Homo sapiens: one gene and its partners. The protein of the gene in region 4 interacts with the protein of the main gene of each other region in a biochemical or structural test. Each region holds a gene or a part of one and is shown on either strand. Other genes may lie near its edges.

What was found.
Region 1: the proteins of LRP1 (region 4) and SYNJ2BP form a complex in vitro, tested with the Homo sapiens proteins (one study listed by BioGRID).
Region 2: the proteins of LRP1 (region 4) and APBB1 form a complex in vitro, tested with the Homo sapiens proteins (2 studies listed by BioGRID and IntAct, with this or other methods).
Region 3: the proteins of LRP1 (region 4) and A2M are reported together in a solved structure, tested with the Homo sapiens proteins (one study listed by BioGRID).

What each region holds. Positions count from the first base shown.
Region 1 is NC_000014.9:70,407,065-70,414,090, reverse strand, and holds part of SYNJ2BP (synaptojanin-2-binding protein), read left to right. Parts: intron 1-7,026. UniProt on the Homo sapiens protein: Regulates endocytosis of activin type 2 receptor kinases through the Ral/RALBP1-dependent pathway and may be involved in suppression of activin-induced signal transduction.
Region 2 is NC_000011.10:6,402,093-6,409,118, reverse strand, and holds part of APBB1 (amyloid beta precursor protein binding family B member 1), read left to right. Parts: intron 1-3,455; exon of another isoform or gene 3,456-3,986; intron 3,987-4,185; exon of another isoform or gene 4,186-4,313; coding exon of another isoform or gene 4,314-4,374; intron 4,375-4,427; exon of another isoform or gene 4,428-4,496; coding exon of another isoform or gene 4,497-4,512; intron 4,513-5,296; coding exon 5,297-5,472; intron 5,473-5,574; coding exon 5,575-5,631; intron 5,632-5,714; coding exon 5,715-5,800; intron 5,801-5,910; coding exon 5,911-5,974; intron 5,975-6,393; coding exon 6,394-6,543; intron 6,544-6,909; coding exon 6,910-7,026. UniProt on the Homo sapiens protein: Transcription coregulator that can have both coactivator and corepressor functions. Adapter protein that forms a transcriptionally active complex with the gamma-secretase-derived amyloid precursor protein (APP) intracellular domain.
Region 3 is NC_000012.12:9,112,918-9,120,004, forward strand, and holds the start of A2M (alpha-2-macroglobulin isoform a precursor), read right to left. Parts: upstream 3,003-7,087; 5' UTR 2,933-3,002; coding exon 2,847-2,932; intron 627-2,846; coding exon 443-626; intron 1-442. UniProt on the Homo sapiens protein: Is able to inhibit all four classes of proteinases by a unique 'trapping' mechanism. This protein has a peptide stretch, called the 'bait region' which contains specific cleavage sites for different proteinases.
Region 4 is NC_000012.12:57,131,465-57,138,490, reverse strand, and holds part of LRP1 (prolow-density lipoprotein receptor-related protein 1 preproprotein), read right to left. Parts: intron 33-7,026; coding exon 1-32. UniProt on the Homo sapiens protein: Endocytic receptor involved in endocytosis and in phagocytosis of apoptotic cells. Required for early embryonic development. Involved in cellular lipid homeostasis.

The DNA of each region.
Region 1 (7,026 bases), on a different chromosome or scaffold from region 4:
CATGAAGATATATAGGGAGGAGACTGTCTCAAAATACCACTAGAAACTAATCACCACTAGAAACTTCCACATAATTTTGATGGTCCCATAAGGATCTTTCTATCTATGGAAGAAATATGAAAATCCTCTAAGTATGCATTTCTTTTGTAGGCAGCATTGCCCACTCTTTGTGTTTGTATAGCTGTGTACTCAGGAACCTGATGTTTAATCAGATCCGAGAACATGTGTACCATTCCCCCTTTGTGTTCTGTCAGGGACAAGAATTGTGGATATTTCCAGTGTTTGGGCCCATATTATAAGGCAGTCGAACCTGTTCCTGACTGATCTGCTTACTGCAAGGGAAGTAATGAAATCTTGGGGAAATTATGACAACAGAGTGAAGAGGCAAAAGAAGCTTGACATGTATTAGGTTGGTGCAAAAGTACAATTACTTTCTTTTGTTCTTCTTTTTTTTGAGACGCGTCTCACTCTGTCACCAGGGTGGAGTGCAGTGGCACGATCTTGTCTCACTGCAACCTCTGCCTCCCAGGTTCAAGCAATTCACCTGCCTCAGCCTCCTGTGTAGCTGGGATTACAGGCATTTGCCACCATGCCCGGGTAATTTTTGTATTTTTAGTAGAGACAGGGTTTCACCACGTTGACCAGGCTGGTCTTAAACTCCTGACCTCAAGTGATCCACCTGCCTTGGCCTCCCAAAGTTTTGGGATTACAGGCGTGAGCCACCCCGCCCAGCCATAAGTACCACTACTTTCAATGGCAGAACCGCAATTACTTTTGCACCAACCTAATAGCATGGAATCTCTCCTGTTGTCTGCTTTCTCAACTGTAAGAAGGGACTTGGGCTAGATGACTTCAGAGGTCTCTTCCATCTCTAAGAGTTCATTCTTTGGCTCATTTTATGATTATTTATGTTATTTTATGTTTCCTACCATTTGGAACTTCGTTTTGTTTTTATTTCCTGCCATTTTAGACTAATAGTATGAGCTGAAGAATTACAAAGGCAGTGGCTACAATCTCAAATGTCTTCAAGGGTTGAACAGTTTACCTTTTATCTTTAGTGGAATCTTGTTTTTTTCTACAGGAGTCCAGCTTGATTATAGTATCTAAGGCTCTCACTTTTTCTTTATCAAATTGAAAGTCTCTTAATGCGTCTCAAAACTCAGTTACTCTAAAAAGTGTGACAAGACTGTTTAATATGTTTTTTTGCACTGCAACAGGTAAGAGATTGGCCATAAAGACAACCTTACTGTACATTGAGTACTATGATTAGGAATCTTGTTTTTAGGTCCGAGTCCTCAATGGGTTTCAGCAAGTTACTCCTGATATGCCATCTTTAAAGAGGGAAGAGAATATTTATTTTCTTACTTTCTTTAAAGGCCTTGGAAAAGATGATGGGTTGATGGCAGTGTTTTAATAATGAATACTAAAGGAGGTATTGTCTTTCCGGTAGTGTGCTAGTTACTATATATACATATATATACTGTATATATACTATACATACATATATATACTGTATATATACTATACATACATATATATACTGTATATATACTATACATACATATATACTGTATATATACTGTATATATACTATACATACATATATATACTGTATATATACTATACATACATACATACTCATTTAATCTTCACAGCAACCCTGAGTAATAAATATTTAATCCACATTATTAGATTGGGAAATTGCCTTGGGGAGGTTAAGGACTTGCCCAGTTTCTAATGCCAGTAAATTTCAAAGGATTTTTAACCCAGGTGTGTTAATTCTGCTATACCATATACTACTTTCCACTGCAGTAGCCATGTTTAAGAAGTTGACTGCCAACCTTTCCCCTGACCTTTATTTTATTATATCATGCCTTATTCCCAGAAGCATTTGAGGCATCTTAAATGACTAATACAACCTACAGTGGAAAGTTTTTATTGCTTGCTCTTGATAGAGCTGAGGGCATATCAAGGTGAGTACCTAAAATCAAGATGCCCCATTAAGTTCTATCATTTAAGCCTTGTAGACCTGTCATAGGCTTTGGGTTTCATGCTAACTGAAACTGTTGCTAGCAGTTTTCTGATCTATTCCTTTCTTCACATATCAAATAGATGTGAGGCTAAATGCTATATCCTTGCCCTATTTTCTCTTGCTTACACAAAGTCTCGCCTTCATGGAGTTTACAATCCAATAGAGATATGATGTTCACATATGAAAAATTAAATCTCACTGCAAAGGTGCAGATAGTTAAGGAAAATGATGAGGAGGTAGTTAGTGGGAGGGCAAAGGAAGTGCGGAAAGGAGCATGGTAATCTGACCCTGTGTTGGGAAAGTTCAAGAATGCAGACACTGCTGAGAACCATTAAAATGGTCAATTAAAAGAACGTGGAACTTGTGGGTCTTCTGGAATGGACAGGCTTTAGGCTAGGGCCAGAGTCAGGGATGAGTATGGCCTAAGCAATAATAGAGAGAAGAAAATAAGCAGAGCATATTCTGAGGTTAGTGAGTAAACCAGCCTGGACAGAAGGAAAGTTTCCTTTAGGAGATTCAAGAGAGAAGAGGTAGCTGAGTAGTAACCTGAGTAGGTGGAGATCAGATTATGGAGTCTTTAGTGTTAGTATGGAAACTTAATCTTTCTCTAAAGTTCTATCTGGATTCTTTCTACTTCCTAGCCATTGATTAGGACTCAGTTCAACAGTTAGCTCCTCCAGGAAGCAGGCTTTACCTAGGATAGATGTTCTCTTATTGTCTATATTATACATCATTTACAGATTGCCTGTAATGTATTCCCATGTATTGCCAAGCTAAGCACTGTATCTTGTCCCCTTGTAAAAAGGAAGAGATGAAATGGTTATTATCCCCATTTCAGAAATGAGGAAACCTTGACTTCTGCATTATACAACTCTTTAAGTGAAGATTTCGATCCAGGTCTGTGTGACTTAAAATTCCAAGCCCTGAATCATTATAAATAACTTTTTTTTTCTATATGCTTTCTCACTTATGTCTCCTCCTTCTACTTCACTTTGAGCTCTTCTGAGTCAAAGAACATATATTTTATTTCTTATTTTCTTTCATTTAACTATTATTTTAGGTTCAGGGGTACATGTATAGGTTTGTTATATAGGTAAACAGTGTCATGTGGGTTTGTTCTACAGATTTTTTCGTCACCCAGGTATTAAGCCTAGTACCCATTAGTTATTTTTCCTGATTCTTTCCTCTCAACCTCCACCCTAAGTAGGCCCCAGTGTCTGTTCTCCTCTGTGTGTCTATGTGTTATTATTTAGCTCCCACTTATAAGTGAGAACATGTGGTATTTGGTTTTCTCTTCCTTTGTTAGTTTGCTAAGGATAATGGCCTCCAGCTGCATCCACGTTCCTGCGAATGACATGATCTTGTTCTTTTTCATGGCTGCAAAGTATTCCATGGTGTATATGCACCACATTTTCTTTGTCCAGTCTACCATTGATGGGCATTTAGGTTGATTCGATCTCTTTGCTGTTATGGATAGTGCTGCAGTGAACACATGCATGCATGTGTCTTTAATGTTTTTTTAATGCTTTGTCTAGTGCATGACACACAGTGGTCAGTAAGTGTTCATTAAATGACTGAGCAAACTGATAGATATCATAATAATATAATGGAATGTTTTTATATTTATTTATTTATGACATAGGGTCTTACTTTGTCACCGAGGCTGGAGTGCAGTGGCACGATCTTGGCTCACTGCAGCCTTGACCTCCTGAGTACAAGTGATCCTCTTGTCTCAGCCCCTCAAGTAGCTGGGACTACAGGTGTGTGTCACCACACCTGATTAATGTTTTTATTAGCCATATTTTTCATAGAGACGGGGTTTCACCATGTTGCCCAGGCTGGTCTCCAACTCCTGAGCTCAAGTTATTCACCCACCTCGGCCTCCTAAAGTGCTGGGATTACAGGCGTGAGCCACCACACCCAATGTACTTATTTATTTTTGAGACAGGGTCTTGCTCTGTCCCCCAGTCTGGAGTACAGTGGCACTATGACAGTTCACTGCAGCCTCGACCTCTTGGGCTCAGGTGGTCCTCCTGCCTCAGCTTCCTGAGTAGCTGGGACTACAGACATGCACCACCACACTTGACTAATTTTTTTTTTTTTTAATTATTTGTAGAGACGAGATCTCACTATGTTGCCCAGTCATGCCTTGGACTCCTGGGCTCAAGTGATCCTCCACCTCAGCCTCCCACAGTGCTGCGATTCCAGGCATGAGCCACTGTGCCTGCCATAATGGGATGTTTTAAATAAAGAGAAGCAGTAACATGATCTGTTTCAGCTTTCAAAAAGTGGTAAACATGGTTCTTCACTAAATACAATTTGAGAAAGAGAGAATGAGGATGGACACATTGTATTATGATGGATAGGAAACTGGCTAAGATATCAGAAACAAGGAGAAGGAGTAGATGGAACACCTCTTGGAGAGAGTCAGGTAAATGGAACAGTTCTCTAAAGATTGCTTCAAGGATCAGTATTAAGATCTTTTCAAAACAATACTAAAGAAAAACTGTACAGTAAAATATCTAGGAATTACTTTGGGGAAATAGAAAGGCAAGCTGATAGATGTTCAACTGCAGAAACATTTTGCGAAGCCATGTGACTAGCCAGAAAAGTGGTCAATGATTACATGTGATAAGTACACAATTATTTATTGAGGGAAAAATAGCCAAACTATACTTAGATGATAGGGTCAGAACTGCTGGTTTCAGAAGACTGAAAAGTAAAGTAAAACTATTTTTTAAAATTTATTTAGCATTTATTATGTGCCTACACTATGATTAGGAATCATGGACACTAGAATAAAGAATAAGAAATGATCCCCATTTTTAAGAATTTTGCAGTTCAAGCCAGGCATTGTGGCTCTTGCCTGTAATCCGAGCACTTTGGGAGATCAAGGAGGAGGACTGCTTGAGGCCAGAAGTTCAAGACCAGCCTGGGCAACATAGCAAGACTCCCATCTCTGCCAACAAAACAAAGCAAAACAAAACAAAACATTAGCTGTGTTTGGTGGTGCATGCTTGTAGTCCTAGCTACTTGGGAGGCTGAAGTGGAAGAATTGCTTGAGCCCAGGAGTTCGAGGTTGTTGTAGTCCTAGCTACTTGGGAGGCTGAGGCAGGAGAATTGCTTGAACCTAGGAGGTGAAGGTTGCAGTGACCTGAGATCGTACCACTGCATTCCAGCCTGGGCGATACAGCGAGACTCAGTCTCAAAAAAGAAAAAGTGCCAGAATGCTTGAGTTCAAATCCTTACTCTATCACTCACTCACTGTGTGACCTTGTGCAAGTCACCTCACTTCTATCTGCCCCAGTTTCCTCAGCTATAATATGAGAGTATTATTAGAATCTACTTATAGAGTTGTGAGGATTCAATGATTTTTTTTTTTTTTGAGACGGAGTTTTGTTCTTGTTGCCCAGGCTGGAGTGCAGTGGCGCAGTCTCAGCACACTGCAACCTCTGCCTCCCGGGTTCAAGCGATTCTCCCGCCTCAGCCTCCCAAGTAGCTGGGATTACAGGCGCCCGCTACCACACCTGGCTAATTTTTCTGTATTTTTAGTAGAGATGGGGTTTCACCATGTTGGCCAGGCTGGTTTCTAACTCCTGATCTCAGGTGATCCACCCATCTCGGCCTCCCAAAGTGTTGGGATTACAGGTATAAGCCACCACGCCTGTCCGATTTTTGTTTTATAAATAATTTGTAGTGACGATTCTGTACTGTCTTAAGCACTTTACCACAAAACAACTCATTTAATTCATTGAAGTGCTTTAAGGATACTGCTATGTGGGGAGTAGACTTTATGGGGCAAGAATTGAGTCATCTAGGAAGGGTAGGGTAAGCTGTGTCAGTAATTTCAGGGATATGGGGCTTCTGTTTCTCTTTTTCCCTCCTTTTATGCCTTAGTTTATAAAAAAACCCTATTACTGCAATAGTCCTTCCCCCTCCTCCAAAAAAAAAAAAAACCTGTTAGAAGCTCCCAGAAACATTTTTAACCTTGTGAGATTTCCCTAGAACTGGAAATGTTAGAAATTCCTGACCTAGGTGTAATTTTCAATTCCAATAATAGTCAATTGACACCAGTTGGGCTTTGTGTATGTACTAGGTACTATATTGGCACAGGAGGTACAAAAATGAATATAAGCTAATTACATTGTCTTCTAGGAACGAATATTGCAATAGGGTAATGAGACAATTAAACAAGTAATTTCATGTTTTCAGGCAAAGGGAAGAAGACATCCAAAGTCACGGAGATAAGCAGTAGCTGTGGGCGGGGATGATAGGGTGAAAAGCGATAGCAAATATTAAATTTTGTTTACTGTATAATGCAAAGTAGAGAATGTCCAAAGATGGCTAGAAAGGTAGATTATGGTGATTTTGAGTTTAAACTTCATCTTCTATGTTTTTTTTTTTACTTTGATTTTATCTTGGGGATATACTTAGAATTTATTTAAAAATCATTTTATCATATTTGCATAGGAAATAGTAGAAAAAGTCTACTGTAAGGAGGATACTATAACAAATTTTTTTTTTGCTTAATTAACACAAAATTGGTGCTTTGAGAAACTTTAGCCTTTTATTATTGACTAAGTTGGTGCAGAAGTAATTGTGGTTTTTGCCATTTTTTTTTTTTTTTTTGAGACGGAGTCTCGCTCTGTTGCCCAGGCTGGAGTGCAGTGGCACAATCTCGGCTCACTGCAAGCTCCGCCTCCCAGGAGATCACGCCATTCTCCTGCCTCAGCCTCCCAAGTAGCTGGGACTACAGGCGCCTGCCACTATGCCTGGCTAATTTTTTGTATTTTTAGTAGAGACATGGTTTCACCATGTTAGTCAGGATGGTTGTGATCTTCTGACTTCATGATCCACCTGCCTCGGCCTCCCAAAGTGCTAGGAGTACAGGTGTGAGCCACCGCACCTGGCCGGTTTTTGCCATTTTTTATAGCAAAAACTGCAATTACTTTTGCACCAACCTAATAAGTAGGAGTCATTAATAAATGTTTAAA
Region 2 (7,026 bases), on a different chromosome or scaffold from region 4:
CAGCCTGGATGGCAGAGAGAGACCCTTTCTCAACAACAACAACAACAGTTTACTTTTGCATTTCTGAAAGATAAAACTCTTAAAAAAAAAACCCACCACAATATCATTATTGTACCTACAAAAATTTAATAATAATTCTTTAATATCATTAAATATCCTGCCAAAAAAAGGCTGGATTGAGCCTGGGCACAGTGGCTCACGCCTGTAATCCCAGCATTTTGAAAGGCTAAGGTGGGTGGATTGCTTGAGGCCAGGAGTTCAGAAACAGCCTGGTTAACATGGTGAAACCCTGTCTCTACAAAAAACACAAACATTGGCTGGGCATGGTGGCTTATGCCTGTAATCCCAGCACTTTGGGAGGCCGAGGCAGGTGGATCACGTGAGGTCAGGAGTTCGAGATCAGCCTGGCCAACATGGTGAAACCTTGTCTCTACTAAAAATACAAAATTAGCTGGGCGTGGTTACAAACGCCTGTAATCCCAGCTACTCGGGAGGTTGAGGCAGGAGAATCACTTGAACCCGGGAGACAGAGGTTGTGGTGAGCTGAGATAGAGCCATTGTACTCCAGCCTGGGCAATAAGAGCGAGACTCCTTCTCAAAAAAAAAAAAAAGAAGGAAAAAAAAAATGTAGAGACAGTGTCTCACCATGTTGCCCAGGCTGGTCTTGAACTCCTGTTCTCAAACAATCCTCCTACCTTGGCTTCCCAAAGCACTAGGCTTACAGGTGTGAGCAACCATGTCTGGCCTGATCTATCTGTTAAAGTTATGTTTGATCAAGTTCCCCTTCTATTTTTTTCGTTGTTGTTGTTTGCAGTTTTGCTTTTGTTTTTTAACTGGAGAATCATGTTGCTTGTCCTGAGTTTTCTATGGTTTGGATTTTTCAGACTCTCTCCTGTGGTCATATTTACCATGCTCCTCTTCCCCTGGATTTCCTGTAAATTGGTAGTTAGTTCTAGAGCCTTGATCAGATTCAGATTTGAGCATTTTTGTGTTTTGCTTTTGCAAGAATATTTCATAGGTGGTATTAAATACTTCTACTAGGCCGGGCGCGGTGGCTCACGCCTGTAATCCCAGCACTTTGGGAGGCCGAGGCGGGTGGATCATGAGGTCAGGAGATCGAGACCATACTGGCTAACAAGGTGAAACCCCGTCTCTACTAAAAATACAAAAAATTAGCCGGGCGCGGTGGCGGGCGCCTGTAGTCCCAGCTACTCGGGAGGCTGAGGCAGGAGAATGGCGTGAACCCGGGAAGCGGAGCTTGCAGTGAGCCGAGATTGCGCCACTGCAGTCCGCAGTCCGGCCCGGGCGACAGAGCGAGACTCCGTCTCAAAAAAAAAAAAAAAAATACTTCTACTAAAGGCAAAGTCTGATTGCCTCTCTTTTTTGTGATGTTAGTGGCCTTTGGTGGTCATTGTCTCAACTCCTTTTAAAAGGAACAGCCCCTCCTGCACTCCAGCTGATTATTTTTGGGATTGGGGTGAGGAAAAATATAGTCTCAATGCAGCCAGTTAAAGGGAAACTGAAAACTAGATATTGGTGTAAAATAGCCCAATTTCTAAACGTTAACAACAAATTCTATTTTTTAAAAAGCACTGTGCAGGCCACACACAATCTATCTGAGGCTTGCATCAGTCTGCAGGTTGTAGGTTGGAAGTTTGCAAGACTAGGGGGTGTGAGTCAGTGACCAAATAGAGGCCTAGTTGCTCACTTGCCCCTGGGATGGTCACTGTGGGGGCTGCAACTCTGAACTACCTATGAAGCTTCTAGGAGTAGGGGGATAGTACTGCTGAAGAGCTGGGGCGGGTTTGCTGGGCAGTGACCTCAGCAAGGATGTTGGAGTGGCAAGAGGATTCTCAAGGATCATGCACTGGTGGAGACATTGTGAATTGAGGATAGAGGTGGGGGCCAGCCCAGGAAAGGGGCCAAGTCACTCTTTTACAACTGTGTTGCTATGACCATGAGGGCTGCAGAGAAGGTTTGTGCTCCTGCAGAAATGAGGCTAGAATTGAGCAAAAATTATATTCTCCTTCCTATTGTAGGATATTCATAGAGCTATGGATTGAATGCATAAATGCATGAATTCATGAATTAAATGAATGATGAATGAATAAACTTTACTACCTGTATTGAATTCATACTCTGCTCCAGGCCTTATCGTAAATGCTGGAAATGTATACTATGGGGCAAAGATGTTCTTACCTCCTGGCCTTCACAGCCTGGTGAGGAGACAAAGAAAGAAACAAGTGGTTATGATCAGTGCGATGAGCTCTCTGGGGCTGGGGAAGTACAGGAGGGGCCCCTGACCCTGCCTGTGAGAGTGGTGGGGGAGAGGGCAATGGGTCAGTTTTAAGAAGGGACCTGTATACTGATGTCTGAAGGAGAGGTAGGTGATAGCCAGGTGAAAATCGAGAGTAAGGGAGGTGGGCTGGGAGAGGACAAGGGGGCATGTCCCAAGCAAAGAGAGAGAAGGGGAGTGGCTGGAGGTAAGGCTGAGAGGCAGACAGGGGTTCATGACAGCACATAAAACCTGGGGAGGAATTTGGACTTTATCCTGAGGGCAGTGACAAAACAATTAAGAGGATTCCGTTGGAAAATTACTTGATTAGTTTAGCATCTCAGAAGAATCATTTGGGCTGTACTGTGCAGCTGAGATTGGAGGAGACCAGATAGGAAGAGAAAGACCAGTTATGATGTTTTTGCAATGATGCAGGTTAAAAAAAAAAAAGCTAGTAGCCTGGGCTATGTTAGTTATGTGGGGTGGAGAGAAGGGGAAAGCTTTAAGTCAATCACTGATTCCTGAGCAAGTGAGTACACCTGGCTTCACCACTAAGGCATTTGTGGATGAACGAATGAAGGAAGGAAGGAATGATACGTGAACATTTAATGTATTTTATATGTAAGTGTCGCATGAATCGATGCAGGAGTGAAGGTGTGCGTTCTGGAATAAATGCATGTGTGTGAAAGCAAAGGCCGGGGTGGGCTGCGCTTGGAGGGAGATGTGCCAAGCTCCAGAAGGGCCTCCCAGATGGCCAAGGGGGGAGAAACTGCCCTTCCAGGACAGATCGGAAGGATGAAGCTCTTTGAAGCAGGAAGGTACAGGCTGACAGGGATGGCAGATGGATTGGTGTGTGTGACTCAGTCAGGAGATGGTGAACTGGTCCCCAGATTCCAGAAGTGTCCAGCCAGCCCTCATGAAGCAGGCTGTGGCTGTGGAGGGCATGGAGGCCCTAGGGTGCTGTTCCTGGAAGGTTTTAGCAGGAGAGTCCTGAGGCAATGGAGGGTCTCTAGGGAACAGCAGGTATTCCCTGAGCCTCAGCTAAGTTTCAGGTGCCTATTGAAAACCTTATTCCATAGAGTGTGAGTTAGGGGGAAGTGGGGGTGAGGAGAGGCGGTGATGGCTGCCTAGAAGGTGGATGGGCAAGAGCCCCTCCTCTTTGGGTGTCTGTGGGCCCACGTCATTTGGAAGCTGAGGATGGTGAAGCACCCTGCCTGAATAACTCTCGTCAGGTGTGCAGCCACCTTGGCGTAACCACGCCCACTCCCAGCCCTGCTGTGTCTGGTTGCCCAGCAGCAGGGTCTTGGGACTGCCTGTCCCTTAGTACTGCCTCTTGGACCAGTCAGGATTCCTGGTTTCCCTGGTAACGGGAAGCACGTCAGCAGTCTGGGCGCTCCCAGCCGGTCCTGGTGCTGCGGTTGCCGAGGAGACGCTGCAGCCTAGCTGGGCCCTGGCAGGTGAGGGGTGGGGGGTGGTGCTGGGAAGCCCCAAGCCCAGCCTCAAGCTTGCTGGGGCTCAGGACCTCAAAGCCCACCCTTGGGTTCAAACTGCTGTGCAGGTCCTGGACAGGGGCGGGATCCCTGAAGGCCTTGAAACCACACCCTATTTATGCTGACAGCTATAGGCTCTGCAGGGCCCCAGGCAGCTGGGGTATTCCTTAGGGGCTGAGTCTCCTGGTATCCCTAAGACTGGGCTTGGCTTAGGCACTGAGGTAACCACTGGAGGGTGGGATGGAGATTCAGGATTGGGGGAGGGGAGCCAGGGCGAGGAAGAAGAGGTGTGAGCAGAAGGGGCTGGGGTCTCATGAACCTCCCTTTCTCCTCCCTTCCCCACCCCCCAAGGAGATTCCCTAGCATGGTGGTCCTGGCCCCTCCCTAGCAAGCTCCAAGCGGGGGAGGATCTTGCCTGGCAGACGCTCTGCCCTGGTGAGAAGGGGGCGGGATGAGCTTTTCTCTGCAGCCCAGCACCAGGCTGTGAGCCCAGCTGGCTGGGCTGGAGGGGCTGTGAGGAGGGAGGGTGGAGGCAGGAGGGGCCGGGAATGAGCGCCATGTTCTCCCAGGACTTTTTCCTGGCCATTATCCTGCAGGACAGCAGCGCAGGTGAGGGGCAGCATGAGGTTGGGCCTCATGTGGGGTGGGGCTGACAGGGAGAGAAGAGTTAGAGGACGCATGAGCGGGTTACAGGGTTGGAGTGGTGTGGCTCTGCCGGCAGACAAGGGTGTATGACACAGATGCGAGGTATGTGTGTATGTGCATGACATGTTTGCTTGCATCTGTGTGCAGCAAGGGTCAGGAAGTGAGCGTCTGTGGTGTCTGCACACATTTGGCAGGGTTTGACGTGTGCCGTGTGTCTGAGTGTGGGTCCGCCTGTGTGTGTGGTACCCACACGTGTGTTGGGGCCATTGTGGTGTGGTATCTGCACACCTGTGTGGCAGGGGCTCGTATGTTTAGCTGCATGCACACACACCTCTGTGGTGTCTGCATAAGTGTATGGCTAAAGTTTGTGTGTGTGTGCCCCTGCACATACATGTGCACCTGTGTGTGATACCTGCCATCTGTGCTGGCATTTTCTGTGTTGCATACCCTGGTGTTTGTGGCTGCACAGGTGTGTGGTAGGGCTTGTATGTGTTGTGTGTCTGTGTATACATGTACGTGTGCAGGAGCTAGAAAGTGTTCACCTTCGTGTTAACTGAGATAATAGATATGTATGAAAGGAGGTTAATTGGGGTCACCCAACATTCATTGCTCCCTTCCTTCTTCCCTCCCTGCCTTCCTCCTTTCCACAGTGTGGCCACATTAGCCACCAACAGGGCCCAGGAGGAGACCTGAGCCATGTCCCCTACTGGTGGCCCCACATGTGGTGACTCCAGACTATAGGCTCTAGGCAGAAGCAGGAACTGTGTTGTGGTATAGCTCTTCCACCACCCCTTCTCAACCATGGGGTCTCAGAGGGGACCGGGCATAGGCACCAGCTGTCTGCTCTTTGGGTAGGCTGACCCTCACCAAGCCTCCCACCTGGCAGATTCCTTCTGGAACCCCAACGCCTTCGAGACGGATTCCGACCTGCCGGCTGGATGGATGAGGGTCCAGGACACCTCAGGGACCTATTACTGGCACATCCCAACAGGGACCACCCAGTGGGAACCCCCCGGCCGGGCCTCCCCCTCACAGGGGAGCAGCCCCCAAGAGGAGTCCCAGGTGAGGCTCACAGGCCTGTTGATTTTGGGCCAGGGGTGGAGGGAGTGTGTGCTGCTGGAGTAGGATAGGACACTCACTCACTACTCCCATCCCTCCTCCTAGCTCACCTGGACAGGTTTTGCTCATGGAGAAGGCTTTGAGGATGGAGAATTTTGGAAGGTGGGTAAGGGGACCTGCTTTACCACGGGATAGCTGGAGGAGGGGCATCATTTTGATACTGATTCCTCAATCCCCTTCCCAAGGATGAACCCAGTGATGAGGCCCCAATGGAGCTGGGACTGAAGGAACCTGAGGAGGGGACGTTGACCTTCCCAGCTCAGAGCCTCAGGTGAGCTGCCAGATGCAGTGAGCTGGCAGTGGGATGGATCTGTCTGGAAGGGGCCTTGGGACAGCTCCATTTATGGGAGCCCTGTGCCAAGTATTACCATCTGCCTTCAGCCCAGAGCCGTTGCCCCAAGAGGAGGAGAAGCTTCCCCCACGGAATACCAACCCAGGGATCAAGGTTTGTTCAAGACTGACACCCATTCTGAGTCTGGGGCCCTCTTATTTGTCAGACAGCCCCTAATGTTGTGCTCTGAGGGGTCTCAGCGCAGTTCCCCAGGTCCTGAGTTAGGAGTTCTTCCAGTCTCAGCACAGAGCCCTGTGTCTGAGCTGGAGGCACTTCAGTTTTTAAATCAACCAGCCCAACAGCCAGGTTGGGGGCCCTTGTAGTCTTAGTTCAGGTGCTTTTTTGTACTAGCTGGGGTCTCATCTGACATCTCCCTCACCCTAACCACATCCCCCTCTCCCTAACCACATCCTGTTTGGGGAGCTTCTCCGTCTTAGTTCAGAACACCCTGCCTCCTGCCACACTCTGTAGTCAGGAACTCTCCAGTTTTGACTCAGATCCTCTACCTCCTGCCCCTCTTCTGTGTCTGGCAGTGTTTCGCCGTGCGCTCCCTAGGCTGGGTAGAGATGACCGAGGAGGAGCTGGCCCCTGGACGCAGCAGTGTGGCAGTCAACAATTGCATCCGTCAGCTCTCTTACCACAAAAACAACCTGCATGACCCCATGTCTGGGGGCTGGGGGGAAGTAAGGACCTGAGCCGGGGGTAGGGGGTGGTACTGTGAGAGTGTGAAGGGAATTATGAGAGATGGGAGGTCTGACCTGCCCACAAGCAGGCTGGGGAAGGGGGATATTGGCCCATCCTAAGTGGCAGCCCTGTGGGATGGATGAGCGACCCCAGGCCAGGACCTTGGGAGATAGTCGCCTAACAACGGTGGAGTCAATGTGAGAGATGACACGTGACCTCCACTAGAGTGAGGCCTGCAGGGCGGGCGGTCTGACACCAAAGCAGGGGCCCCAGAGCTGTGGCTAACATCCCCTGAGCTGCAGGGGTCAGAGATCAGCCACCATCCTGGCTGGAGTCCCACTGAGTGCCTGCTTCTGGTCCTGCAGGGAAAGGATCTGCTACTGCAGCTGGAGGATGAGACACTAAAGCTAGTGGAGCCACAGAGCCAGGCACTGCTGCACGCCCAACCCATCATCAGCATCCGCGTGTGGGGCGTCGGGCGG
Region 3 (7,087 bases), about 48 Mb from region 4:
TCTCACATGTGGACAACTCTGAAGAGATATTACACCTTTGCTCAGGGTAATTTCTACAATTTTTACTCTTAGAAGTAGTGTGGAGTGATGTGTTCCTGTCAGTCCACCACGGGTGGCTCATGTTGAGCCTTGGTCTAGTTTGCTTTATTAATATTTTTTCCATCTTAATTTTAAGAAGTCACATTTTCTTTTTTTTTTTTTCCTTTCTGGCTAATAGGGTTTCTATGTGATTATTAAGCTGACTTTTAGTTTGCCTGTAAATATTTGTCTCCCATGGCTGGAGAGTCATGCATTGCTCCTTAATTTCTATACTTAGTTTGCTACATTTGGATTCCTTCCTGCAGTTCTTACCAACCTCCCAAAGCCTCATCTGACAGAATACTAGATCCCTATGACCCTGACTAAAAGAACCAAGTATATTAAGTCAAACAGCCACACTCACAGCGAAGGCGACACAGTGGAGTACGTCATTCTCCGCCTCCAGGTCAGTGAAGAGGCTCCTGTTTCCCCTGACAGACTCCAAGGAAGCACTTACAGTCACTGTCTCATTCAGGTAGCTCAGAAGGACACAGCCCTTCTCAGTGGTCTCAGTGTGGAGCAGGGAGGGGACCAGAACCATATACTGCCTGGGAATGAGACGGTTCAGTTAGAGGAAAGTGAAGGAAGAGAGGCATTGCTATCAACAGCACTTTTTTCCATCATCATAATTATCATCATCAGTTCTACACCAAGAGAAGATGTACTGATGAGCATGAAATTTGGCCGTTGAAGGCCATGCATAAGAATTATTTCCCTTTTCCCTCACATGCCATGGCAGTGAACATTTTACTTGAGGTAGGTCTTAAACAGATTAAAACTTGTAGGCATGCTTCACTTTAAGGAACAATTTGTGAACATCTGAATTCAAATAAAAATATGTAGTTACATTTGTTCATGTTGTAAAATCTATTTTTACCTTCAAGTTGCTGTAAAAAGTAAGCAAGCTCTCAGTCATGCGGACATTACAAAAACTAATCAAATTATAGAATTTTCATTAAAATATATATACACACATACATACATACACACATTCAGCAGCCCTGTGAAAATTGTATGGTAAGCACTCGCTTCCACTCCACAGATATGGAATCTGAGCCTCAAAGAAAGTGAGCCATTACTTCACAGTCTCAGTTGTGGTAAGCAGCTAATAAGGTCTTAAGAGTGTTACCTAACCATGGATGTTTGCATTTTAAATATTTGCCTTTCAGCTCATGATTAGACAATGGCTCCATCCAAAAATGGTCCTCTGGTGATTGACTTTAGACCTTGGTAACTCATGTGCAGTACAGAAACTTTCTCAGTACCCTGACATGTAATTTAAGATCAACCCTGTAGTTTTTATACATTTTTGCTCACAGAACTCCTAAAATAATTTTTGGACTCTGTGCACTCCTTACATATTTTCAAGTAAACATATTTTTATCATGATTTTAAGTAATAGCAAAAGATATTATTTTTGATGATATTTTAAATTAATACTTAGATTACTTTTACAATTTTCTCATGAATAATAAACACTGTAGTATAAGATACCTACTATCACTATTTAAAAGTACATTAAAAAATTCTTTTAATGGTCTGATATTTAATATCTTTCTCTTCTTTTTTCCTTTTTGAATTTGAATTTCCATGCCAATTACCATACAGAAATTTATCCTAAATTTTTATATTTCAAAAAATGTTGTGAATTATTCTTACTTCTTTATTGTCAAGCATCTATACATATACGTATGTATACTTATGTTCACATATATACATATATGAATACATATACATAAATACATATATATGTAACATATGTGGGTAGGTAAATTTAACTTTAACTCCTCTTTTAAATAGAATGTAACCATAAATTTATAAATATTAAACATTTCCTTCTGACTGAGCTATGTTCAAAAATACTTGTATATAACTGATCAAAACAAAATAAATACAAAGTATGATTCATACATATTAGATATAAAATTAAAATACTTTTGAAGCACATCTTTAATGAGAATGATGAGCTGTTTTTTCCCCCAGTGAATTTATGCATCCATGGATTGCAAGAATTAAACAACATTAATTCTGTTACTATTTTTGTTTTGTGTAGCTATAAGTGCTAAGAAGAATGGCTCACATAAAAGTAAATAAATGGCAGGTAAAACAATTGCATCATTGTTACCACTTCTTGCAACTTCTGCATTACATGCCAAAAATCACCTAGTACTCTATTATCAAGAATCCCTTCTCATCACTCATCAGCTGGTATTTCCTTCAGTTCCTCCTTCAGTTGTGTTGAAACAAAGAATTCATCACCACCTCATCTGCAAAAGGATTTCTCTTCTGACATTAGAGTCCCTTGCTTTTTCAATATCAACACCAGTATTTCAAATTGTTCCTTTATTTGGCACTCTATAGATTTTTATACTCCAGGGCATTGTTCCATGTTTGGTTGTGGGAGAGAATTGTCTTTATTTTTATAAAATAGAAAATGGACCCTTGAGAAAGAGGAAATAAGAAAAGATAAATAGCATGGTCTCAAGTAGATCAATATGAATGTGAATATCTAAAATTTATTCTTTTAAAAAGCTAAAAATTTCTGACACCCCTTAGGAAGGCTTTGCATATTAGAGCTTCAGAGAGTTGGGGAAGAATGATTAAAAGTAAGCAAGTAATGAGTAAACTAGATTTGTAAAATCTGGAAGGAATCTTAGAGATAAGAAGATGACAGTATCATAGGAAAGAAAAAGGAATGATATAAAGAAAAATCTGCAATAAATGAAGGACTCTAGGTTCATGCTTCACGCTCTCTGTGTGGAACTCACGGTTTTCCAGAGACTGAGGCGTCTGTGGGCAGGAGGACCAAGAGGAGAAGAACCAGACTTGGATGAAGGAGTTTGTTCTTCCCCATGTTGCAGAAAGAAGGAGCTGGAGGAGAACAGACTGTATTGTACCCTACTCCCTACAATCCATCTGGTCCCAAACACTTCCCAAAGCAACTGGGCTTTATGCTGCTCTGTGTGCAAACAGGAAGTTCCACCCACACAAGATCTCTAAACAAAGTTGAGGTCTCTGAACATTCTCTGGAAAGGTCATTGATGGCCTATTTATAGTCAAGGTTAATTCCTGGCGGGCTAAATAGAATCCCTGGAGGGCTAAAACTACATTCCCATTCCCGTAAGAGCTCACTTTTACCGTACAGCAGCTAATAAGCTTTTCAACCTCTTCTCTCCCTCACTCCCCCACAACTCCTCACAACGCCTTTTATGGTGCTTCTCACATCTCTTGTATGAATAGCTGGCAAGGAAAACTACAATTTAAGCAACACTGGGCAGGCTCAAAATAGATATTTCACTACAAGTCAGTGTGGCTGCAAGTTCTCCATTAGATATGCCTAACCTAAATGTTTGAAGCCACATCAGAATTCAGTAGTCCTCTTTGAAAATGGCACGAATTAAACCAGTAGCTTTTTGACATTAGGGATATTACTGGGTTGCAGATGAAGAGCCAGGCCCTGGAAGAATGATCATAGAAAAGAGTTTCCTGTTTTAAGAAAGTGAAACAAAGAAACGTGAAGTAACAGGACTTCAAAAACAAATTTTGACCTATTGTGCCTAACAAACTTCCCAATTGCCTTTACCATCGACTACACAGACTTCCTTACTGCCTTCCAAATATGATACTCCTCTGCAAACTTTAAGTCATATAAATGATTTCATTAATCCATCCATCCACCCATGCATTTATTCATCCATCTATTCATGTAGCTATTCAGTTGCTTTGTAAGTATTTTTTGATCCTACTAGGGCTAGACATCATGCAAGATTCTAGAGATAGGGTGGTCAAATAAGTATGAAAACAGGCACTTAAAGATTTTACATTCTTGTTGGGGCAAAAACAGACAGAAAAACAACTACTGTATAAAATACAATATAACACCTACTGTATAAAATACAGTATAAAATACAATATAAAACTACTGTATAAAATACAGTAGCCAAACATATTATTGCAGAAGTTCAGGATGCTCTGGGAGCACATAAGAGAGCACATAACCCAGACCTGGAACCTTTTAAAAAAATTTTGAGGGAAAGCAAAATGTAAATTAAGCTCTGAAGTATGAGTAGTGGTTGTCTCGAAGAACAAAGAGATGAAAAGAGCTTTCTAAGCATAACGAATGACAGATGCAAAGGAGGGAGAAGAATCACGGCACATGCATGAAATGAAAACTATTTGGTATGGAGGAAATATTCCTTTCTGATACTTCAAATCAGAAAGGAATTTGTCAACAATATTAAGGTATTCAGAGGAGTACTCAGTGGATTGACTTCAGGTTTGTTTCCTGGAAAGCTTGCTCTTATTGAAATTTGAAAGGGCAGCTAGAAAGAGGTGATCCAGGATGCAGGAAGACCAGATGGGAGCTGGTGTAATAATATAGGTGAAAGCTGATGGCATTTTGAACTATGGAATTTGTGGTGGTATTGAAAAGAGCTTGCAGATTTATATCATATTTAAGAGGTAATTATAGTGCTCAGTGAATATATCAATGTGAGGAATAAAGGAAAATGTGTCTTTCCATTTTCCTGGCTCGTCACGGAGTGAATTGTGTTGCCTTTAGCTGGGTGAGTGAAACAGAAGAAACACAGATTGGTGGGAGCAGAAGGAGGACAGAAGGGCTGAGGGTTGGGAAGATGGAGTAAGTGCTTGTGGGATATTCACGTATTAATATTCACAGGAGTTTGACATTTGAATCTTGAGCTTACAGCAGTGTGGTCTACTAGAAATAGAATGTGATCGCCCTGTGTAATTTTAAATTTTAAATTTTCTAGTAACCACATAAAGAGAAACATTAAATTAATTTTAATAGTGTATTTTATTTAATCCAATATATCCAAAATATGATCATTTCAACATTTAGCCAATATAAAATTGTTAATGATATCTTAAAGACTTTTTTTTCATAATTTGTTTTCACAAGCTGGTGTGAATTTTATACTTACAACATAGATCAATTTAGGCTAGCCATACTTCAAGTGGCCAATATTAGACATAATATAGGTAATATTTTTCAGATTATGGTGTTAGCATCTAAGTGGGTTGTAACATCATGCCCTGTGAGTCATGACCAGGATTTTAAAAAATGAAAGAGAATATAATAAAAAATACAGTGTATCAGACAGAATAAGTGAGAATAGTGATTTGGGAAACATCTGTTTCATATACATGCAGCAGAGGCTGGTGGTTGTTTCCTGTTACCACTTCTCCAATTCTGCTTTAATAATAGAACTCCCGATCCTTTGCTGGGTGCAGACTGCCTAGTTGACTTCTATGTTTTTAACCCACTCCCTTGAAGCTGGGTATGGCATATGACTAAGTTCTGGTGACTGGAGGGCAAGTGGAAGTGATACATGCAACTTTCAGTTCATGACTTAAAAAAGGAAGGGTACAGTTCTGCGCTTCCCCTTTCTTCCTTGCCCAGGCTGGAATGTGGACATGCTGACTAGTGATAGGTACTGCTGTAGCTCATCAGATGGAAGCCATGTGTTAAGGAAGGCAGAACCACAAACCAGGCACAGCCTGAGCCCTTGAGTCATCAAAAGTCTACGCCAGTTGGGACCTTTATGTGACAGAGAAATGCATTCTCTTAGTTAAGCCATTGTATTTTGAGGTCTGTTACAGCATTAAAATCTATATCCTAACCTTATTTTTCTTTGTCACTATTTCTGTCTCAATCATCTGTATCCTTTACTCTAAGTGTCCTAGGTCACAATTGTGAAAATGTGATTACAGTGTCACAGTGGGAACTGCTTATTGAACATGTACAAAATCCCTTATTTTTGGTTAAAGTTAAAGCAGTCTGAATGCCACTAGCTTGATGAGATCTGCTGTACTTATAGAGACTATGGATTTATCAGTTTATTGGGCAAGCTGATGCCATGGAAATGGATGATAATACCCACGTAGAAGATGTTGATGAAAAGAGAAAAAGAGCCCAAGACAGAGTTACAGGGAATGCTCTTGTCTAGGCAATGGGCAGGAGCACCCAAGTGGAGCAAGAAGGGCCAATTAGAGAGGAAGAAACACAGGCAGGAGAGTGTGAGGTCTCTGAGTCCCACGGAAGGGACCGCTTTAGTAAGAGAATAGTCAATAGAAGATTGCTACTAGACCAGAATGATCATGACTTTATACCAAGGCATCAATGTTAATAGCACACAACATTTTAAAAAATTATTACAAATGATGGTATAATTTTATAATGTATTGATTCATAATGTAACATAATTTAAATGGTTTCTAAGACGCTAGAAATAAGTGAGCATTTACTTGGATTAATGACTTAAAATAGGAGGGATTAATGTTAATAGCATTCATTTGATGCCTCATGATAAATTACAAAGATGATCTGTAAAGGTTGTCATTGATAAATTCCTGGCTACCCATGTCAAGTGCCGCTGTGAAATCAAATAATTGATTGATTTTTTTTTTCTGCTGGGTTTAAGGACAAGGACATTGGGATTCAGCTGTTTCAGTGCCGGTGTGGGGCAGAAGCTTGCTGAGGGTGATGGGGAATGTGAGGAACTAGAGCCAGTTTGGCAGTTTGTCTGAAGGGGAGAAAAACAACAGAGCAGTACCTGACGGAGATGCCAGGGTGAAAGGAATATTTCTTTAGGTGGAAATAAACTTGAATAAGTTTGAATGAAATATTGCTTCTAAAAATGCTGAGTGGGAGGTACAAATGACAGGGGAGAAGTTGAGCTTTTTGGAGTGAGAAGGGATGATCCCAGAGGGAGGTCTCTGAAGGATGCATGCAGCAGATGTATTAAGAATGTGGGTGGAGGAATGATCCTTAATGGGAGAGATGCCGCATTCATTATAATCACAGATAAAAAGGAAAGTATTACTAAAATCGCCTTTCACCACGACAGAGCCTCCTATTCTTTAGGAGAGGGAAAACGAGCTTGAGAGAAAAAATAACTGGACCAGTTAGTTGCCAGGACACCTGAGCCCTACTTCTAACTTAGCTGTGTGGTCCTGGGTAACTCAGTTAACTGCTCTGAGCCTCAGC
Region 4 (7,026 bases):
GGCAAACTGCTTGGGGCTGCAAGTCTTAGGGGCTAGGGCAAGGAAAGAAAAGGGGATATAAATGAAGGATGGAGGCCAACTCTGTGAACCCAAAGTCCCCTAGTACTGCTCTTCCTTCCCTAGCATCAGTCTCCATCTGGCCCAGACCCTCAGCCATGGTCTATGTGCCTGGGGGTGTCAGGGGGTGGCTTTGGGTAGTTCCTAGACACTGTGTATCTGCGGTGGGGGTGGGGAGGATCCAGAAGCACATTTTACTGCACCCCTCCAAGTCCTCTAGGCTGCCTGTTCCTGGGAGTCAGGGTCAAAGCCTTTGCTATTCTTGGTTACTCTCATCAGACACCAGCACCCCCTGGCTTTGATGACAGAGTGATGGTGAAGGGGGGTGCATTTAGGCCTTGACATGTTTTCTCTTTGTCTTCCTCTAACTCCTACTACTAGAGGCCCCGAGCTGGTCTTATCTAACCTCTCTGCTTCCCTGCCTTCTGGGACACTCCTGGTCCCCTGACCCATCACCCCATCCTTCCCAACCCCTAATCACTAGGCCCCCAGATGGGAGCAGTGGGGAGGGATGCCCTTGGCACACACAGTAGTAGTTGGAGATGGTATTAGCAGAGGCACAGGAGGGCAAGGCTGGGCAGGAATGGGCAGGGTAGAGAGCCTTGCTTCCATTTCCATTCCCTATTTTTTTTTTTTTTGAGACAAGGTCTCACTCTGTCCCCCAGGCTGGAGTGCAGTGGCACAATCTCAGCTCACCGCAACCTCCACCTCCTGGGCCCAGGCGATTCTCCTGCCTCGGCCTCCCCAGTGGCTGGAACTACAGACATGCATCACCATGTCCAGCTAGTTTTTGTATTTTTAGTAGAGACGGGGTTTCACCATGTTGGCCATGCTGGTCTCAAACTCCTGACCTCAGGTGATCCACCTGCCTTGTCCTCTCCATTCTCTAAAGACACAGCCTCCCTTGGTTAGACCTCAGGGAGACTTTCAGTAGACATCCTTAGAGTTAAGAAGCACCTAAAGATTTTCAAGATATCAGAATTGGGGAGCAGAGGCAGGGGGATGGCTGAAATGAACTCTAGGAACTGGTTTCAGTCCAGTCCAACTAGTTAGCTACTATATTCAGGACCTCTTGGCCCTACCCTCCCACCCCAATCAGGCTTCTTCCACTCCTACCCCATTCTCTTCCCTCATCCCCCAAGGAGGAATTAAGAATGGTGACAACTAACTCTGTTGTTTTTTTTTTTTTTTTGAGACAGAGTTTTGCTCTTGTTGCCCAGGCTGGAGTGCAATGGCACGATCTTGGCTCACTGCAACCCCTGCCTCCCGGGTTCAAGTGATTCTTCTGCCTCAGCCTCCAGAGTAGCTGGGATTACAGGCATGCGCCACCACGCATGGCTAATTTTGTATTTTTAGTAGAGACGGGGTTTCTCCATGTTGGTCAGGCTGGTCTCGAACTCCCAACCTCATCTGATACATCCATCTCAGCCTCCCAAAGTGCTGGGATTACAGGCGTGAGCCACCGCACCCGGCTGACAACTAACTCTTATTGTGGGCTCAGTATGTGCCAGGAACTGTGGTAAAGCAGTTTTTTCCATGTATCATCATATTTAATTCCCTCCACAGTATGACAAATAGGGACAACTAATACCACCATTTCACAGATGAAGAAATTGAGCCAGGTGACTTGGCCAGGGTCAAATAGCTGGCAAGTGACAAAACCAGCTAAGCTGACTCCAAGCTCTGAACCAGTGAAATCCACACCAGTCCTCCGAATTCCCACTCCTCCCAACCTCTATCACCACATCCTCCACAGGAGGAACAGTCACCCACCCCTTCTCCCCCACCCAAGGCTGAGCTCCCAGTCTCCTGGCCTTTCGTGGCTTTTCCTCAGACTGTGCCATCACATTTCTATTCTGCTGGCACACACTGAAGGCCAGCTCTATGCCAGGCACTGCACTAGGCATCAGGGTGCCAAGGAGGGTGAGATGACCCTCTGCCCTGCAGGAGCCAGAGTCGCCTGAGAAGACAGCTGTACCCAACTAATGCAAATGCAGGGCAGAGACAGAAGTATAAGGAAAATGGCGGGGGGGGGGGGCTCTTAGGAGGGAGGGAGTCTGATGGGAGCCTCACTGAGATGTCTTCCCTCCTAACCCCCACCGCTGGCAGGGGAGACGGCACTCAGGCCCCTGGCCAAAATGACCGAGTTCAGGAAACACATCAAGGATGGCCTAGCCAGGCTCCCCCTTCAGCCTCCCTCCCCTGGCCCCCACCCTGAGCCTGGAATAAAGGCCCCTTGAGGAGGTGGATAATGCTGAGTTCATTGCCCCACTGGGCCAGCTGTGAGGTCTTCCCGGGAAACACAGCCCGCCAGCCTAGTTAGCATGCCGGAGAACCGTCCGCTTCCCCTGACCAGCCGTGGCCGGCTGAGGGGGAAGAGGGGGGCTGGAATGGGACTCAGAGGCAGATGAGATGTTTGGAGCCCAGAAACAGACCCCCGTGCCACCCACCTGGGACTTGGTCCATGCCCTGCTCCTCCCAGGGGCAGAGCGCACAGCCACGGCCTGAGGTCACCGGGTGGTCACCTAACCTCCCCTCCATTCCACATCCCAGCCATGGTGCCCCCTCCTTTAGCCCTCACTGAGTCCCCCCCGCTGTCCCCCACCCCCATTTTTGGCCTGAACTCCACAGAGGAAACAGCAGCTGGCAAACTCCAAAAGCTGGAATGAGAGAGATTCACAAACCAGATGTGCTCTTGCAGGGAGGGGATGGGGGATGGGACAAGTGAAAGGAAGAGGAGGGCCCAGGCCCCTATCCCACAGCAGCACCGGGGGAGGGGGCCACATCTCCCGAGGGCCTGGCCAGCACAAGGATTGCAGAGAGATACGTGAAAGAACTTCCTGTCAGGGCTGGTGTTGAAGGGCCCAGGAATCTGGAGCGAGAAGGCTGAGGCCTGTCTTTGATTTCCTTCAGGGGGAGAGGGAAGAAAGAAACAAATAAACTACTTTGGGACAGTCTACACAGCCAAGGGAAGCCTCACTCAGAGCTGGGAGAGAGCTGAGTTGGGAGCGGGGTAGGACCCTTATAATCTGCTTAGAGGGAAAGCCAACCCCACTCCCCTCAGCAGAGCCTTCTGTGTCTGAATCCAGCACCCAGAAAACCCACCTTTGTGGCCTGCAGTTTAGATGAGAGAACAACATTGCCCTAAGGTCAAAAGCAACTAAGGCCTTCCCCGCCTCCTGGCCCGCATGAGAGAACCCGGAGGTCTCCCTGACCGATGGGAGCTAACCTTTTTCACCTTGCTAACCACCAGCCACTGATTGGAAATACGGTGACTATTAACTCACTTAGATACTATAACCCTGTGAGGTGGGTGCCCTTGCGGCCCCCCTCTCACACATGGGGGAGCTGAGGCACAGGGTGACTGGTAACTGAGCAGGTGGTTTCCTCATAGGTCATGGGATGCAGCCGGGTTAAGAAAGGAAACCAGGCCGGGCATGGTGGCTCATGCCTGTAATCCCAGTACTTTGGGAGGCCGAAGCAGGCAGATCATGATGTCAGGAGATCGAGACCATCCTGGCTAACGCGGTGAAACCCCGTCTCTACTAAAAATATGAAAAATTAGCTGGGCGTGGTGGCAGGCGCCTGTAGTCCCAGCTACTCAGGAGGCTGAGGCAGGAGAATGGCGTGAACCAGGGGAGGCGGAGCTTGCAGTGAACTGAGATCGCGCCACTGCACTCCAGCCTGGGCAACAGAGCGAGATTCCATCTCAAAAGAAAAAAAAAAGAAAGAAAGAAAGGAAACCAGATGGGCGCAGTGGCTCCCGTCTGTAGTACCAGCACTTTGGGAGGTGGAGGCGGAGATGGGCGGATCACTTGAGGTCAAGAGTTTGAGACCAGCCTGGGCAACATGGTGAAACCCTGTCTCTACTAAAAATACAAAAATTAGCAGGAGGCGGAGGTCGCAGTGAGCAGAGATCACGCCATTGCATTTCAGTCTGGGTGATGGAGTGAGACTGTGTCTCAAAAACAAAACAAAACAAAAACAAAAAACAAGGAAGGGAAATTGCAGGGAGAACGCTGTCGTTCTCTGGCCCTGGCAGTGGGGAGAGGATTTTAAGGGGTGGCCTTCAGGGCTCCTCAGAGAGGAGGGAAGGGCATAGGGGAGACAGAGAGGAGCAAGAATGGGACAGAAGAAGGGGAAGACAGGCAGGAGAAGAAGAAGGAGAGATCTAGAGAGGAAGGAGAGAGAGCGAGTTTGGAGGAAGAACACCAGGACACAGGGGCCGTCTGTTCTCGGCTTTGCCTGAAGATGAATGTGACTGCCATGCTAACTTGGCCAACACCCTGCCCCACCCCCCCAAACCCAGGCACCCAGCCCAGCCACGGTCCCCAGGGCCACCAAGCTGGAGCCAGGGCAGGAGGTGTAGAGTTGGGTGTGCGTCCAGACACAACACAGACCCCACTGCCCTGCTTGACCCTTGGCTGTCATTCTGTGTCCCATTCTGGGACCTTGGGGGTGGGGAAGTGGGGTGAGAATGCCTGGCCAGAGAGGGTGACAGCGAAGTCCAACCCTGAAGGAGTCTTCTCCAGAGGAGGGGAACCCATCCTTTGATACCCCCTTGAGGGAGCGAGAGCAAGGAAGAGAGCTAAGACCTTAGAGGTGCTTCTTAAAGGACAAGGAGACTCAGGGACTGCAAAAGCATGACAGGGACTCTTGGGGCCCTTTTTAAGAGTGGACACAGCAGAAGGAGAGATAGGCTCCCCTCTGAGCTAGGTGAGAGGGGGGTTCTCTAAAGGGAACCACATGATATAGCTAAGGGAACAGAGTGGGAGGAGGATGCTCAAGGTGCGGGGGGTGGGGTGGGGGGGCGGCGCGGGGACAGAGCCTGCAGGAATCTGAATTTTCGACCTTATGGGGGTGGGGCAGCAAGGGCCTCCCAAACCCAAACCGAGAGGTTTTCACTGAATTTTTTGTATTTTGGGTGTTGCCCAGTGGCTCTTTCCTGAGGCTCAGACACATTTTTGTCATTCCTGAGTCTGGGCCTCTGCTTTGCGGCCTGGACAGACAGACAGACAGGGTGGCTTGGACAGCCAGGGGAGGGGAAGGGTCTCCGCTTCCATTCTGAGTCAATATTGATGCAGCAGGACATTAGCCTGACCCGTGACCTCCCCCACCAGCTTTTCCTTTCCCCACAAATAAAAGCCAGACCCCCAGAAGGCCTCCAGAGGTCACCATATCACTCACCAGGCATTTCTAAGCCTCCTCTCCTTCTCCCCCCACCCCAGCCACACACACAGCTTATGCTCACCAGAGTAAAAGCTCCAAGTTCTTGACTCACTCCTTACATCTTTCTCCAGTTCTTAGGCTCCTGGTCAGGAGGAAGTTCTGCCAGAAGTCTAACCTCCCTCCTTCCTTCTGAAATACCTCCTTTCTCCCTCTTAGCCCACAAAGGGTATCAAGTTCCTTTCTTCCAGAAACATTCTCTCCAAAACCCATTCCCCAAATTAGTGGAGGGGGAAGAAGAAAGAGGAAGTCGGAGGAAAGTGGAGAGGAAACTTTTGGTGCTGAACTGGACACTGGGTCTGGCCAGGAAGGGGGAAAAATAGCCAAAACAGAGGGGAGGGAGCCAGGGGGTGAGTGGGAAAGCCCAGAGAGACTCTTGCTCCCAAGAAGCTTTTGGGATACCAAGAGGCCTGGATGGGGGTAAATGGAGACAGGCAGAGAAAAATAAGACAAGTGACAGAGACGCAGAAAGCAGGGCAGAGAATGTCACAAAGGTTCGGCAGTAAGAGATGAACTGAGAGGGTGAGAGACAGAGAGGTTCTAAAAAGCCAAGACAGCGCACACTAATGACAGACAGACAGAAAGACAGACAGACAGCCAGAAAAGCCAGGAAGGGGGCTCAGTCCAGAGATTGCCAAGGGGATGACACAGTTGTCCTGGGATGAACCCAGAGAATGACTACCCCGCTGAGCCTAGAGTAGGGTGGGAGCAAGATCTGTCCTATCTTGGAGAGACAGAGTCTCGGCCCTAGGCAGTGCCTGACTCAAGGGAGACCCAGAATAGGGACCACTACCACCCCTGGAGTCAGGAGGGTAGAAAGGAGGGAGGAAAATGGAGCTCTTCAGCCAGGGAAGCTAAGGCCTGGTGGGAGAGGGAGAGGCTTTCATCTCCCCTAGGGGAGCAAGAGGGACAACTCTCCACATATACCCCTCACCTCTTTCCCAGGGAGGGTTTATATTGGTGCCTGAGGCCATTGCACCGGAAACACTCCAAAGCCAACTGCTTCCTTCTCCAAACAATGCAGGATCCTGCTAACCAGGCTGAAATCTGGGACAGAAGAGGGAGGCAGGTTCTCTATCGCTCATACCCAGCACTACCAAGTCAGGGGCCTTCCTGCAGTACCATTCAGCTGCACCCAGATGCCCCAAGAGCAATGAGCCCACACGCAGAGCTGGAGGACCTGAAAGGTAAAGAGTCTGAGGAGTGAGGAGGACCCTGAGAAGAGAGTACTGGGCGGGAATAAACCTAGGCTTGGGGGTTCTGATGTGCAAGGGCTCACACTGCAGCAGGAGGAAAGAGAGATAGACTTGAGTAAGGAAGGGCTTCCCAAAAGGTAAGGAAGGGGTTTTGAAGAATGGGGGCATCTGGACAGGAACTGACTCTGGCCAGGACCTGGGCTGTCATCCTTTGGGAGGCTCAGTGGTGGAAGGGTGGTTGAGAAAATGAAGAGAGGAGAGAGAACAAGATCAGAAGAAAAAGATGTCTAGTGAAGCAGCCCTAAACATCAAAATATCCCTCCAACCCCAAAATGAATTTCTTACACATTCTTGCTTTAAAAGACAACGAGGCAAAGGGAGACGTTTAGGATGTGAGTCTGATCAGGGAGAAAGGAGTTTAGAACTTTCTCTCAGGGATCCAGGAAGCTAACACCCCAGCTTCATAACTCACTTCCACTGTACCTACTCTAGTAACTGGTAATATGCCGGCTCAAGGGGGTGTGTGGAGGAAGGTCAGGAAAAAGGG